Linked DNA regions of Homo sapiens. The protein of the gene in region 2 interacts with the protein of the main gene of each other region in a pairwise test. Each region holds a gene or a part of one and is shown on either strand. Other genes may lie near its edges.

Region 1 (7,483 bases), on a different chromosome or scaffold from region 2:
GGTTTCTAGTATATTTACAGGATTGTGCAACCATCACTGTAATCCCAATTTTAGGACATTTTTATCATCCTAGAAAGAAACCTTGTGTTCATTAGCTACGACTCTCCATTCCCCCCACAGCCCCTGCCAAACAGTAATTTATTTTCAATGTAGGTTTGCCTCTTCTGAACATTTCATATAAGTGGTATCATACAGTATATGATCTTTTGTGATTACTTCTTCATATAGCATATGTTTTCAAACATTCACATTACAGTGTGAATCAGTACTTTATTCCTTTTTATTGCCAAATAATATTTCTTTTTTCTGAGACGGCGTTTTACTCTTTTTGCCCAGGCTGGAGTGCAATGGCGTGATCTCGGCTCACCACAACCCCCACCTCCCAGGTTCAAGCAATTCTCCTGCCTCAGCCTCCTGAGTAGCTGGGATTACAGGCATGCGCCACCAAGCCTGGCTAATTTTGTATTTTTTAGTAGGGAAAGGATTTCTCCATGTTGGCCGGGCAGGTCTCGAACTCAGGTGATCTGCCGCCTCAGCCTCCCAAAGTGCTAGGATTACAGGTGTGAGCCACCGCGCCCGGCTGCCACATAATATTTCATTACGTGGATAATACTACATTTTATCCATTTATTGGTTGATGAACATTTGGGTTGTTTCCATTTTTTGGTTATAATGTTGAACATTTATATGTAAGTCTTTGTATGTATGCACACACACACACACATATATATATATATATTTTTTTTTTTTTTTTGAGACGGAGTCTTGGTCTGTCGCCCAGGCTGGAGTGCAGTGGCGTGATCTCGGCTCACTGCAAGCTCTAGCTCCTGGGTTCATGCCATTCTTCTGCTTCAGCCTTCCAAGTAGCTGGGACTACAGGTGCCTGCCACCACGCCCGGCTATTTTTTTTGTATTTTTAGCAGAGATGGGGTTTCACTATGTTGGCCAGGATGGTCTCGATCTGCTGACCTCATGATCCGCCCGCCTTGGCCTCCCAAAGTGCTGGGATTACAGGCGTGAGCCACTGCGCCTGGCCTGCACATATATTTCTAATTCTATTGGGTATATACCTGAGAGTAGAATTGCTGAGTCATATGGTCACTTAATGTTTAATCTTTTGAGGAACTGCTACACTGTTTTCCAAAGTGGCAGTCCCATTTTACAATCTTAGCAGTTTATGAGCGTTTATATTTCTTGTCAACATTTGTTATTATCTGTCTTCTTGGTTTTAGTTGTCTTAATAGGAGTGAAGTGATATCTTGTAGCGTTTTTATTTTTTAAGAGGCAGGGTCTCGCCCTGTTGCCCACATGAGAGTGCAGTGTTGCGATCATAACTGGCTGCAGCCTGTGTCTCCTGGGCTCAGGTGTTTCTCCTGCCTCAGTCTCCTGAGTCACTAGGACTACAGCTGTGCACTGCCTTGCCTAATTTTTTTTTTGTAGAGATAGGGTCTTGCTATGTTGCCTAGGCTGTCCTGGCCTCAAGTGATCCTCCCACCTTGGCTTCCCAACATGTTGGGATTACAGGTGTGAGCCATCACTCCTGGCTGAACATTTTTTTTGTGTGTGTGGCAGGGTCTCTCTCTGTTGCCCAGGCTGGAGTGCAGTGACACCATCTTATCTCACTGAAACCTCTACCTCCTGGGTTTTAGTGATTCTTCTGCTTCACCTCGCAAGTAGCTGGGATTACAGGCACACCTGTAAATTATGCCAACATGCCTGGCTAATTTCTGTAATTTTAGTAGAGATGGGGTTTGGCCATGTTGGCCAGGCTGGTCTCGAGCTCCTGACCTCAAGTGATCCACCCACCTTGGCCTCCCAAAGTGCTGGGATTACAGGTGTGAGCCACTGTGCCCAGCCCGAACATCTTTTCATGTGTTTACTGGCCATCTGTCTGTAGTCTTTGGATAAATGTCTGCTGAAGTCTATTGCTAAGTTTTTAGTTGGATTGTCTTTTTATTATTGAGTTCTGGATACAAGTCCCTTATTAGATACATAATTCGCAAATGTTTTGTCCCATTTTGTTAGTTGTCTTTTCACTTCCTTGATGGTGTCCTTTGCAGCATGGAAATTTTAAATTTTGATGAAGTTAATCTTATCTATCTTCTGTCACTTGTGCTTTTGGTGTTATGTGTAAGAAATCTAAGATCATGAAGAATTGCCTAATTTAAGATCATGAAGAATTGTTTATTTTCTTTTAAGAGTTTTATAGTTTTAGCTCATATATATATATGTGTGTGTGTGTATTTTTTTCTTTTTTTCTTTTTTGAGATGGAGTCTTGCTCTGTCACCAGGCTGGAGTGCAGTGGTGCGATCTCGGCTCACTGCAACCTCCACCTCCCGGGTTCAAGCGATTCTCCTGCCTCAGCCTCCTGAGTAGCTGGGACTACAGTGCGTGCCGCCACACCCAGCTAATTTTTGTATTTTTAGTAGAGACAGGGTTTCACCATATTGTCCAGGATGGTCTCGATCTCTTGACCTCGTGATCCGCCCACCTTGGCCTCCCAAAGTGCTGGGATTACAGGCGTGAGCCACCACGCCCGCCAGTTTTAGCTCTTATATTTAGCTCTTATATTTGATCCATTTTGAGTAAGTTTTTGTGTATGGTGTGAGGTAGAGCTCCAAGTTCATTTCTTTTTGCGTGTGGATATCCAGTTGTCCTAGTACCATTTGTTGAAAAGATGATTCTTTCCCTGTTAAATTCTCTTGGCCCCTTTGTCAAAAATTAGTTGACCATAGATGTTTGGGTTTACTCCTGGACTCTTAAGTTATGTTCCATTGATATATATGTCTGTTTTTATACCAGTACCATACTGCCTTGATACTGTAGCGTTGTATTAAGTTCTGAAGTAAGAAAGTGTGAGTCATCCAACTTGTTCTTTTTTCGAGATTATTTTGGCTATTCTGGGTACCTTGAGAATATGAATTGTAGGGTTAACTTGGCAAGGTCTGTAAATAAGACAACTGGGATTTTAATAGAGATTACATTGAATCTTTTGGCCATCCTAATACAAAGTCTTCTGATCCAAAAAGATGGAATGTCTTCCCATTGATTTAGATCTTTGCTTTCTTTCAGCAGTGTTTTGTAGATTTTATTGTACAGGTGTTAATACTTTTGTTAGATATATCCGTAAGTGTTTTATTCTCTAATGCTATTATAAATGAAATCATTGTCTCCATTTTGAGATCGTTTAGAAGTACAATTGTTTTTCGTATATTGGGGCACATGGCTTTTACTAATAGAAAAATCATATGTATACATGCTTGTTTACTAAGTTTTAGGCACTTGGTCAATGCTGTTGATTTTCTGTTTGTAACATTTGCTCGTTGGTCATCACTTCCTTTTCTGATTGGAAAATTATTGTAGCAGTTCTGCTGAGCATGTACTTTGAAGTACTTTATCTTCTAGGGAAACCTGAAATTCTTAAGCAGCTCACTCTGGGACTCAGCTGTCTGTGCTTTACTCTGCTCTGATAGAGCAGTTTACCAGATGTGCATGTGGCCATCTGAGTGGAACAGCTGTGCAGTTGAGATGAATTGCTGTTAGAGGTGTTGTCCTGGAACTGTCTGGTTGCAGGAGCAATGGTGCCTTCCAGTGCATCTGATGAGATTCTAACTGAATATGTGAATATCTGGTATCCAAGCTAGATTTCAGTAGAAACCGCAGGGAAAGCTGTCTGCTCATTTAGAATGTTGGAGGGCTCTGTTTGAAGTTTGCATTTCTCTTTGAACAGATGCTCCATTGCAAAATAAAAGGTTTGAAGATTTCAACAATGTTGCCCTAAAAGCTAATTTTATTTCAATAAAGTAACATTCAAGTTCTGTTGGGCTTTGTTGCTGTTGGTTTAGCAATGGGATTTTTTTTCCCCCATCACAGCTTTGGAAACATGATGAGCAAGGAGAAGCGAGAGGCTGTCAGTAAAGAGGACCTGGCCAGAGCGACTTTGATCACCATCACCAACAACATTGGCTCAATAGCAAGAATGTGTGCCCTTAATGAAGTAAGGGGACATGGATTTCTTTAATTGCTCTAAGGAAAATACTGAACTTAAGTGGGCCCCATCACGTCTGTTTTCTCAGAACAGTGCCTAAATGTAGTCATTTGGGGTGGGGTTTGTTTTAGCACGAAGTTAAAACTCTTCAAATACAGATTAATCTTCTTTTTTTTTTTTTTAAACTGAAGATAAACATTGCTACTTGTCTAGAGGTAAAATGACATCTTTTGAGGAGAAAGTAGAGGAAGAGTGGAAGGTAGCCAGTGTTCCAGATATTGGGGACTGTTGGGGGTGATGATGGATAACGATGCTGAATGTAGACTCCACACTCACTGCTGAGCTCTAGAGGCCCTAGGGAGGAATCCAGAGGAAGTCACGGAAGCTGGGAGAAGACTGAGCAGGCCGAGGGGTGCCCTCCTTGGCTCCCCCACCTCAGCAGAGCTGCGTCTTTGTGCTTTCAGCTTCTTTACAGTGCTGCCTTGTAGCATTCAGGTCAAGCAGCATTGTACAGGGCTATGAAAGAACCAAGAATGGGCTGCCCTTGGGAAAAGAGGATCTAGGATCCAGTTGGTGCAGCTTATGGCTTGTCCCTGTGTGTATAGTTGTTAAATTATTCTTTTATTTTTATTTTTAAGAAGTTATTCTTTAGATAATAATAGGCATGTAGCTTAAAAGGAAACCTCAAAAGACACAAAGGATTTGTCTCATTTTAAATTAAAAAAATACTGTATCAGCATCAAGTAATTAAACATTTGTTGGAATATCATAACTTCTTTTTTCTTTATTGTATGTTCCCTTTCCTGTGCTTACGTATTTTCAGAAATTTTAGTTGGTGTGCATACCACAATTTGTATTTTATACTTAAATATACATTTCATGGTTGTATATTTATTTGATCAAGTTCTTTTATATCAAATAACAGAGCTTGGCATTTGGTTGCTTGCTCATAACTCGGCAGTAAGCATTTTTAAGCATGAAGTTATTCTTTGGTTGAATTTTATTCTTGATATGGGGCTTAGGAGTGAGATTTCTGGTCTACAGAAATGATCATGCTCATGAATTTTGACATTTATCGTCATGATGCTTTGCACAAGGGCTGCACCAATTTAGATCATCTTTAGCGGTGAATGAGTGGATTAATTTTACTACAACTACTGATGGTGGTGGTGGAATTTCAGTTGCTTTTTTTTGCGAGGTTAATAGGTCTAAAATTTTACTTTTGTTTGATGACTAGTGGTTTGAATTTTTCGCTGCCTGTTATATTGCTTGTATACTTTGCCTGTTTGTGTCACTGTCCTTTTGGATTGGAGTCATACTGTTTTTTTTTGTTTATTTTAACTTATCTGTATAAAACATTGTATTCAAAACTAGTTATTGTTGGTCAGATTTAATACAAATGTTTTTCCTAATCTGTTTTCTTCTCCTGTGACATTATCTAGCATGCTTTGCAGTGGGTCCAGAGTTGTCTGGGGATCAAGTTTAAGTAGCCCTGGACCAACTGGACTAAATTTGATCAGCAGTCAAATTGTTGCTAAGAGCTATGCACATGGTGCTGTATTTGGGGTAGCTTTTATGAGAAAATAGAAATTAAGATGAAAACTAATTGCCTTTTTTTGGTGTGCTCAGAACATTAACCAGGTGGTATTTGTTGGAAATTTCTTGAGAATTAATACGATCGCCATGCGGCTTTTGGCATATGCTTTGGATTATTGGTCCAAGGGGCAGTTGAAAGCACTTTTTTCGGAACACGAGGTAAGCTGACTTGTTCGTTGTGGTATATTATGTACACAGAGGGCTTGTGGGTCACACTGTCATGGAACTTGAGGTAGAGGGTGGAGGTGAAATGGGCTGCAGTGTTTCTTTTGTTTTTTGTTTTTTTGAGACGGAGTCTCGCTCTGTCACCTAGGTTGGAGTGCGTGGCACAGTCTTGGGGCTCACTGCAGCCTCCGCCTCCTGGGTTCAAGCAGTCCTCCCACCTCAGTCTCTTAAGTAGCTGGGATTACAAGTGTGCGCCCCCACACCCTGCTAATTTTTGTACTTTCAGTAGAAATGGGGTTTCACCATGTTGGCCAAGCTGGTCTGGTCTCAAACTCCTGACCTTAAGTGATCTGCCAGCCTCAGCCTCCCAAAGTTCCAGGATTACAGGTGTGAACCACTGTGCCTGAACTTTTTTGGTAGTTTAATTTCGTAACATTTGAAAGCTGTTTCTTCCCTGATACTAATGCAAGGTAAATTTTGGGTTAATTTAATTGTAAGCTTAAGGAATTTTAGAGAAAAACCCTTGAACATTCCCCTATATTTCTGATGCCATATTTTTGTCTGAACTATCCTCTATATTTTTTCTATTGCACTGACTGTGTCATTACTCTGGGTTCTGGTTTTTTCATTTTTTTCAGTGCCAGTTTTTATATATTGTTGTAATTCTTGTGCCAGTTATTTAAGATGCATGTTGTAAAAATGAATAGATGAGTAAACCTCTCAGACTAGAACCATACTATCATAAGAACTTAAGTACAATTGTAGACAGGCTGGAAATGATGAAATGGAAAAGAATCAAATTGCTCAACCTCATAGCCTGTCTTGGAAAGCACTCTTATTTTTCCTATTTGGGGAAAAAGAAGCAGAGGTATGGAAAGGCGTGTAGGGGTTCTTTCTTCCCTTCTTGGTTGTGGGGCAGTTGAACTATTCTTTCAACTGTTCTTGGATTTTAGATACTGTTATTATGAACATTTTTCAGAATTGTATTGCATATTTAGTTTAACAGTCTATATGAATTAAAGGAAATCAAAGTCCAGATAATAGCACAGATTTGAAGTGCTAGAGATTACTTTTTCCTTTAAAGTTACTTTAAGTTTTTCTTTTTAAATTGCTTTAGTTCATAGTTGAAGTCCAAAGTACACAAATCCCCATATCAAAAAGCTTAAAATTGAAGTCATCTAACTTAGTTTTAAAATTCTAACATTACTGTATTTGTAAACCAGCACCGAATTGCCATTAAGTTTCTTACAGTTCATGTTTCTGTATACATCTTTTTTTGTGATCTGACTTATTTTATTTTGCTTTATATTAGAATTTTTTAAACTCGAATGTTAGATCTTTTTCTGCTTTATTTCTGCCTCTTGTTTAACCTTTTCCTAGGTAGAACATGGAGATTAGTTTTTTAAGTTAACCTTAAAAAAAAAATAGGCTGGGTGCGGTGGCTCACGTCTGTAATCCCAGCACTTTGGGAGGCTGAGATGGGCAGATCACCTAAGGTCAGGAGACCAGCCTGGCCAACCATGGTCAATGTGGCAAAACCCTGTCTCTACTAAAAATACAAAAATTAGCTGGGCGCAATGGCGGGCGCCTATAATCCCCAGCTACTCGGGAGGCTGAGACAGGAGAATCTCTTGAATCTGGGAGGCGGAGGTTGCAGTGAGCTGAGATCGCACCACTGTACTACAGCCTGGGCAACAGAACGAGACTCTGTCTCAAAAACAAAAACAAACAAC
Region 2 (7,483 bases):
ATGAATGGATCAGAACTGAGAGCTCAGAAATGAGTCAGTGTGTATGTGGGGGTGTGTGTTTGTGTAAAACTCTTACTTATGACAAAGATCTCATGGCAGACCACTTGAGGAAAGAAGGGGCTTTGACAGAGCTCTGAAAAAATTTGTTTCTCATATTTAAAAAAGAAATGGCTTTTATCTTCCACCCTACAAATAACAACTTCTGATGGACTAGGAACTTAAGTATCAAAAGCAAACTTTAAAACATAGAAAAGTCTGGGCACCGTGGTTCATCCCTGTAATGCCAGCACTTTGGGAGGCCAAGGCACGTGGATCACTTGAGTCCAGGAATTTGAGACCAGCCTGAGCAACATGGTGAGACCCCATCTCTACAAAAAATACAGAAATTAGTGGGACTTGGTGGTTGTGTGTGCCTGTAGTCCCATCTACTCGGGAGGTTGAGGTGGGAGGATCGATTGAGCTCAGGAAGCAGAGGTTGCAGTGAGCTGAGCTCACACCACTGCACTCTGCCTGGGTAACAGAGTGAGACCCTGTCTCAAAAAACAACAAACAAATAAACTTAGAAGAATATATGTGACTATTGGCCGGGCGCGGTGGCTCACGCCTGTAATCCCAGCACTTTGGGAGGCCGAGGCGGGCAGATCACGAGGTCAGGAGATCGAGACCATCCTGGCTAACATGGTGAAACCTTGTCTCTACTAAAAATAAAAAAATAAAAAATAAAAAATGCGAGGTGGCGGGCACCTGTAGTCCCAGCTATTCAGGAGGCTGAAGCAGGAGAATGGCGTGAACCCGGGAGGCGGAGCTTGCAGTGAGCCGAGATCGCGCCACTGCACTCCAGCCTGGGCGACAGAACGAGACTCTGTCTCAAAAAAATAAATAAATAAATAAAAAATAAAATAAAATAAAATAGAATATATATGACTATCTTTCAGATCTTGTATGTGGAATCATTTCTTAAACATGGTATACAAAATGTTAACCATAAAAGAAAATATTAATAAAATCTATTACATTAAAATTAAGAATGCCTTTTCATCAATTATAGCTTAAGGAAAATGAAAAGGCAAACTCTTAGAAACTAGAAGACTCTTGCTATGCATGTAACTAACAAAGGGATAGCATTCAAAATACATAAAGAACTACAAATCAGTAAGAAAAAGACAAACTACCTAATAGAAAAACGGATAAAAGGAGTACTTATCTTATTAGCAATTAGAGAAATGTATATCAAGACCACAGTGAGATAACATTTTATACCTCTGCAACTGACAAAAACAAAGTCAGATAAAACCAAGTGTTAGAAAGGATATGGATCAATAGGATGTTAAATTGCTGGCGGAAGTGAAACATTTATATAGCCACTTAGAAAAAGACAATTTTGCTCCATGTTTTAAAGTTGAATATTTGAAAAACTTACAACCCAGAAATTCCATTTCTATGTGCATTCTCCAGTACCTTTTGCATATGTGTAGTTTGTTGCAAACAATTATTTCAGTCTATAGAAAGTTATGATCTAGTTTTCTGCCCCAAAGCTGTTTCTCTATCCAAAATATTATGTCTAGCTTGGGTCTGTGATTCACATTTGTGTGCTCAGATCATAATTAAATCATAGGCAAGGAGCGTCATCAAATAAAATATGTATTTGCTATTCTCAAAAAGGGCCTTTGTACTGAGACTGAAATTAGGTGGTAGGTAGGACTGTAATCAGACATGAATAGATAATAGTATTAATAACAGTCACCATTCATTAAGCATGTACTATTTGTCAGATTCTTCAATCTTTATTTAATGGAAATTACTTTGTTAAGTCTTCACAAAGGCTTTCTGATATGGGTACCATTATGAATCTTTTTAAAATGGAGCATAGTGAGCCATTGGGAAGCTAAATAATTTCCACAACTTTATGTTGTAAATTGTAAGGCTGGGATTTAAACAAAGGCTCTCTGACTCCAGCACCTGTGAAATGGCAATATAGAAGCTATTATCTTTCAGATAAAAAGTCAACTTTTCTTAACTTTGCAGAGAGAACAACTCTGATTCGTGGCTATAGGCAATGGTCTGTTGTCTCTAGATGCTTTGTATGATTGTTCAGAAAGTAGTGGTGTATACTTATCTCTACTCATGCAAAACTAAAATTATATATTTTCAGTATTTCAATAGCATTATTTTATAGATGAACAGCAATAAAGTTATCAATGTGATATATATATATCAATGTGATCTGAAGACTTATTTAAAATTATGCCAAGAGATGATTGCCTTGCTTTTATCTAGTTATAAAACTTCTTATCAAATAGACATCATGAAGAATGTCTACCTAAAGATATTTTCAAAAATTTAGATAAAAGATTATTTAAGAGTCCAGTTTGTTTCAAAATTATTATCATTGTCTTAGTCACTCTGGGCTGCTGTAACAGAAAATCATAGACTGGGGTGGCTTAAACAACAAACATTTATTTCTCACAGTTCTGGCAGCTGGATGAGATGAGACTGCCAGCAGGGCTGGGTTTTTTTGTAAGGGTCTTCCTCCTGGTTCATAGACTGCTTTCTTCGTGTATCCTCATAATTCAGAGAAAAGGGGCTCTGGTTCCTTAATTTTCTTATAAGGGAACTAACTCTATGATGGGAGACCCTCGTAACTTAATCTAAGCATAATCTAAGGCCTCCCAAAGGCCTCATCTCTAACATTGGGGATTAAGGTTTCTACAATAGCAATTATTGAGGGTTTCTTTGAGGCTAGGTCATATATCTGATCTGAGGAATTAATTGGTGTATGTATAGACTTTCTGTTCTTATGATATAAAGCAAACGAGCCTATGTATGTGTTGTCCAAAAGTTATTTGATTGCTACCAAAGAGGCAGAATTTTTTTTTTTTTATTGTAGTAGAAAGATCTGGGATGAAAGTTTTGACTCTTGCAATCTAATCCCAGTTTGGCAGTTACCGTCCATGTGAACTTGGACCTGTAATCTGTCACTTTCTAATAGTTGTGCTCTTGGGAAATTTAATTAGATTCTTAATTTTCTCATGTGTCAAAAATACAGATAATAATAAATACCGTACTGGAACATTACAAAGATTAAATAAATAACATGAGAAAGATATAGAAATCCTATATGAGGAAGTCTACCATTTCCTTCCTTCTAAATTCCATTTCCATCTCTTGGGCAAGGTCAGTCACATCTTTGGCTTTAATTTCCTCATCTATAATAATACCAATAGCATGCTTGAGAATCTGTGATTCTGAGCCCTTCTAGGTATTTCTTCCTATATATGTTCAGCTTTAAAAAGTATTGCAAGGATCCTTTATGTAAATAAGCTATTTCTAGGGGATAAAGAAAGTGTGAACTACAACCATTTTATTCCTCTGCTCCAAAAGTAGAGTGCTTTGCTTTGATTTTCTTTCTGACTCAGCAGACAGAGACATCTGCACTGACTTAGAGTTTTCTTGAAAAATTTTTTTGATTCAGTCATATGATCAGAAAGAACAAATGTAAGTCCTCCTGGGATATAGTGTGAATGACATTAAAATATGTCATTAAAACAAACATTTCTTTTCTTTCTTTCTTTTTTTCTTTTTCTTTTTTGAGACAGGGTCTCCCTCTATTGTCCAGGCTGGAGTGCAGTGGCACAATCATATCTCACTGTAGCCTTGACCTCCTGGGCTCAAGTGATCCTCCCACCCCCGCCTCCTGAGAGCTGGGACCACAGGCACGTGCTACCACACCTGACGAATTTTAAAATTTTTTGTATAGACAGGATCTCACTATGTTGCCCAGGGTGCTCTTGACTCCTGGGCTCAAGCGATCCTCCCACCTCAGCCTCCCAAGGTGCTAGGATTACAGGCATGAGCCACTGCACCCAGCATAAAATGAGCATTTATAATTCCAGTATGCTCCTGTGTCGGATGTTTGAGAGTTAAGAGGTACATATACATTTCTTGGCACTTTGAGATGATTAGCTGAACCAGTCACTGCTCTGTTCAACAGGTGGATTTTCGGAAAAGACATATGAATGGAGCTCAGAAGAGGAGGAGCCAGTGAAAAAGGCAGGACCAGTCCAAGTCCTCATTGTCAAAGATGACCATTCCTTTGAGTTAGATGAAACTGCATTAAATCGGATCCTTCTCTCGGAGGCTGTCAGAGACAAGGAGGTTGTTGCTGTATCTGTTGCTGGAGCATTTAGAAAAGGAAAATCATTCCTGATGGACTTCATGTTGAGATACATGTACAACCAGGTATGCAGGAAGTACTTTAAAAAGTTTTCTTTCTTCTGTGCTTCTGTCACTTCATGTTTTTATTTCATGGTGTTCAAAATTTTCATTTCTATTATTATGTACCCTATATATGAACCAGCTAAAGAAATGCTGTGGTGTAACCATTCCAACCTCAGTGCTTTGGGGACCAAACTACACAGACCAATTTTCTCTGAAGCTGCTTTGCTGCATTTCCCTTAGAATATAACTTATATTTTTATTCTTTTAAAAATAGGCACATAATATTCTGATTATAGACTTAAATGTTATAGTGTTTAAAATGTCACATAATTTTTGTATTGTAATCACTTTTTTCCAACATTTAGTATGAAATATTTCAAGCATATAGCAAAGTTAAAAAAATTTTATACTAAACATCTTGGTATCCACCACCCAGATTCTACCATTAACATTAGTATTCCTGCTTTATCACTTATGACTCCATCTATTCATCCCTCTTTCCAGCCATCACTCCAAGTTATTCTTTGATGCATTTGAAAATAAATTGCTGGCCGGGCACTGTGGCTCACGCCTGTAATCCCAGCACTTTGGGAGGCCGAGGTGGGTGGATCACGAGGTCAAGAGATCAATACCATCCTGGCCAACATGGTGAAACCCTGTCTCTACTAAAAAAAAACACACAAAAATTAGCTGGGTATGTTTTCCTTGTCCTTCAAGGTTATTTTTCAGGCTTAGGATTTTTATGAATATCTCAATGTAGATCATTGACTCAGAGTGAATGTTATGGAAATGTTATTATGCTAATTAATAATAATCACAATTTATTCATTGAAGTATGCATCCCAAGACATTTTTCCAGGTAATACCTTATTGGAAAAATTTCAATTTCTACCTCAATAGTAATTATTTATTGACTACCTGCTAAATGTTCTAGATTGTGCTAGGCACTATGGTGGATACCAAAGAAAACATACCATAGATTTTGCACTTAGGCATCTCATGGTTTGGCCAAGGAGACAGAATAACAATAGGTGAAATATTTAGAGCATCATTACATGGTGATATGGTGACAGATATATTTTTTCTTTTCTTTCTTTCTTTTTTTTTTTTTTTTTTTTTGATACAGAGTTTCACTCTTGTTACCCAGGCTGGAATGCAGTGGCGCAATCTTGGTTCACTGCAACCTCTGCCTCCCGGGTTCAAGGATTCTCCTGCCTCAGCCTCCCAAGTAGCTGGGATTACAAGCATGCGCCACCACATCTGGATAATTTTTTGTATTTTTAGTAGAGACAGGGTTTCACTATGTTGACCAGGCTGGTCTCAAACTCCTAACCTTGTGATCCACCTGCCTCGGCCTCCCAAAGTGCTGAGATTACAGACATGAGCCACCATGCCCAGCCTGATCGACGTATTTCTAAGTGTAGTTCAGGGAAGGGCATATTGTAGGCAAAAGTAACTGGAGAAAGCTTCATAGAGATATTGGAAGTTAGAATAGATTTTGAAGATGTGTGGATCTGGACCAGAAAAGGAAGAATGGACATTCTGGACTATGAGGAATAAGTATAATATATGTATTAAACAGAGTGTACACCTTCTTCCCTAGAGTGGAAATTAAGTATTGGAGATGAAGAAGAAATAAGATTGAATAGGTTATTGAGCCAGATAATAGAACAAATTCACAGAAGAACCAAAGCTCTTGATAACGGTCTAAAATGCCTTTTAGAACAAGATAGGATATAATTAAATACATTTTTCTTTAAATTAGTTTATGTAGATTTTTTATCAGTCCAAGTAGTCCTCTCCCAAATTCCTCTGCATTCGTTACTGTAAGGTTTTAGATTGGACAATTATCTAATGAGATCTTCCAAAAACTAATAACTTATTCTCTGTAACAGATATCAAAATGGGGGTAACTACTATCAACCAAGGTCACCAATTACTGACTTACTAAATCTATGGGATATTTTCCATGCCTTATCCAACTTGATCTTCAGCCTTTAAACAATTGATAATTTTTCCTATTCTGTCTTCCTTTGGCTTCTCAAACTCCACTTGCATCAGTACTTGTCTATTCCTTCCTGCTGTCCTGGCCCTGGTCAGACCTTCAATCATATTTTTGACCTTTATTATAGCACCCCCACCTTTATCTTTTCTAGCTATCATTTCCCTTCCCTACTAACTAGCCCTACCTACTTCTAGAATAGTATCTTTCTACCACAACTATGATGATAATTCATCTCTGCTTCTTCATAACTTTCCGTCGCCTGCAGGATAAAATCTGACTCCCTTAAGGACCTTACAAGGTCTTTCAGAATCTGGCTGTCTGTCCAGCCTCTTCCTGCTACTTGCTTCCTCCTCCCACAAAACCAAAGCATAATATGCTCCCTACTTCCTTCCTTTCTGCCTGCCTGCCTGCTTGCCTTCCTTTCTGGAATGCCTTCTCCAAATTTGCTTCCCTGGAAAATTCCTAAATATTTTTCAAGTCTTAGCTCAAACATCCTATGTGGTCTTGCCTGACCAATGGTTAGTTATTTATTTTCTATGCTACCATTTATGCATTATATATACTTCCATTTTGGCATGCATTTATTGCATCATAATGGTTTGTTTGCATGTCTGTCTCGCTGTTAGGCTGTGAATTTCCTCTGGTCTGCAATGATATCTTTTCATTTTTATATCCCCAGGACATATCAAAAATGTGGCAGATGGTTGCTCCTCTGTAATTATTTTTTGGATGAATAAAGTGATGGTATCAATGCAATAGATGTGCATATGTTGTTTCCTTTTAACTCGAATTGGAGAGGGATAAGAATCAGAATGAATGAATGGAAAAAACTATATACACATATCAAGTTCCATATCATAGACTTTATCATTTTATAGGAATCAGTTGATTGGGTTGGAGACTACAATGAACCATTGACTGGTTTTTCATGGAGAGGTGGATCTGAGCGAGAGACCACAGGAATTCAGATATGGAGTGAAATCTTCCTTATCAATAAACCTGATGGTAAAAAGGTATGATGCTAACTTCCTAAATAAAATTGAGTTTTCACTTATAACAGTTACTACTTTTTAGGATCCTTGAAGTTGCACTTTTGAAAATTAATTTTGACCATTTGACATGAAGCTTAAAGTGGGGTAGCATCCTATAGCATGATCTTTGTTTCCCTTTCTTGTGATCAGAGTAGGCGAAATTATAACGATGATAGAACAGCAGATCAGCAAGTAACATCTGTATTTTGTTTCACTGCTACATAAAGTT

Evidence for each region.
Region 1: the proteins of ATL1 (region 2) and PANK2 interact in binary tests that used the Homo sapiens proteins (3 or more experiments, as listed by UniProt).

Annotation. Positions count from the first base shown.
Region 1 is NC_000020.11:3,913,053-3,920,535, forward strand, and holds part of PANK2 (pantothenate kinase 2, mitochondrial isoform 7 precursor), read left to right. Parts: intron 1-3,874; coding exon 3,875-3,998; intron 3,999-4,441; exon of another isoform or gene 4,442-4,519; intron 4,520-5,618; coding exon 5,619-5,744; intron 5,745-7,483.
Region 2 is NC_000014.9:50,583,840-50,591,322, forward strand, and holds part of ATL1 (atlastin-1), read left to right. Parts: intron 1-3,991; coding exon 3,992-4,239; intron 4,240-7,101; coding exon 7,102-7,236; intron 7,237-7,483.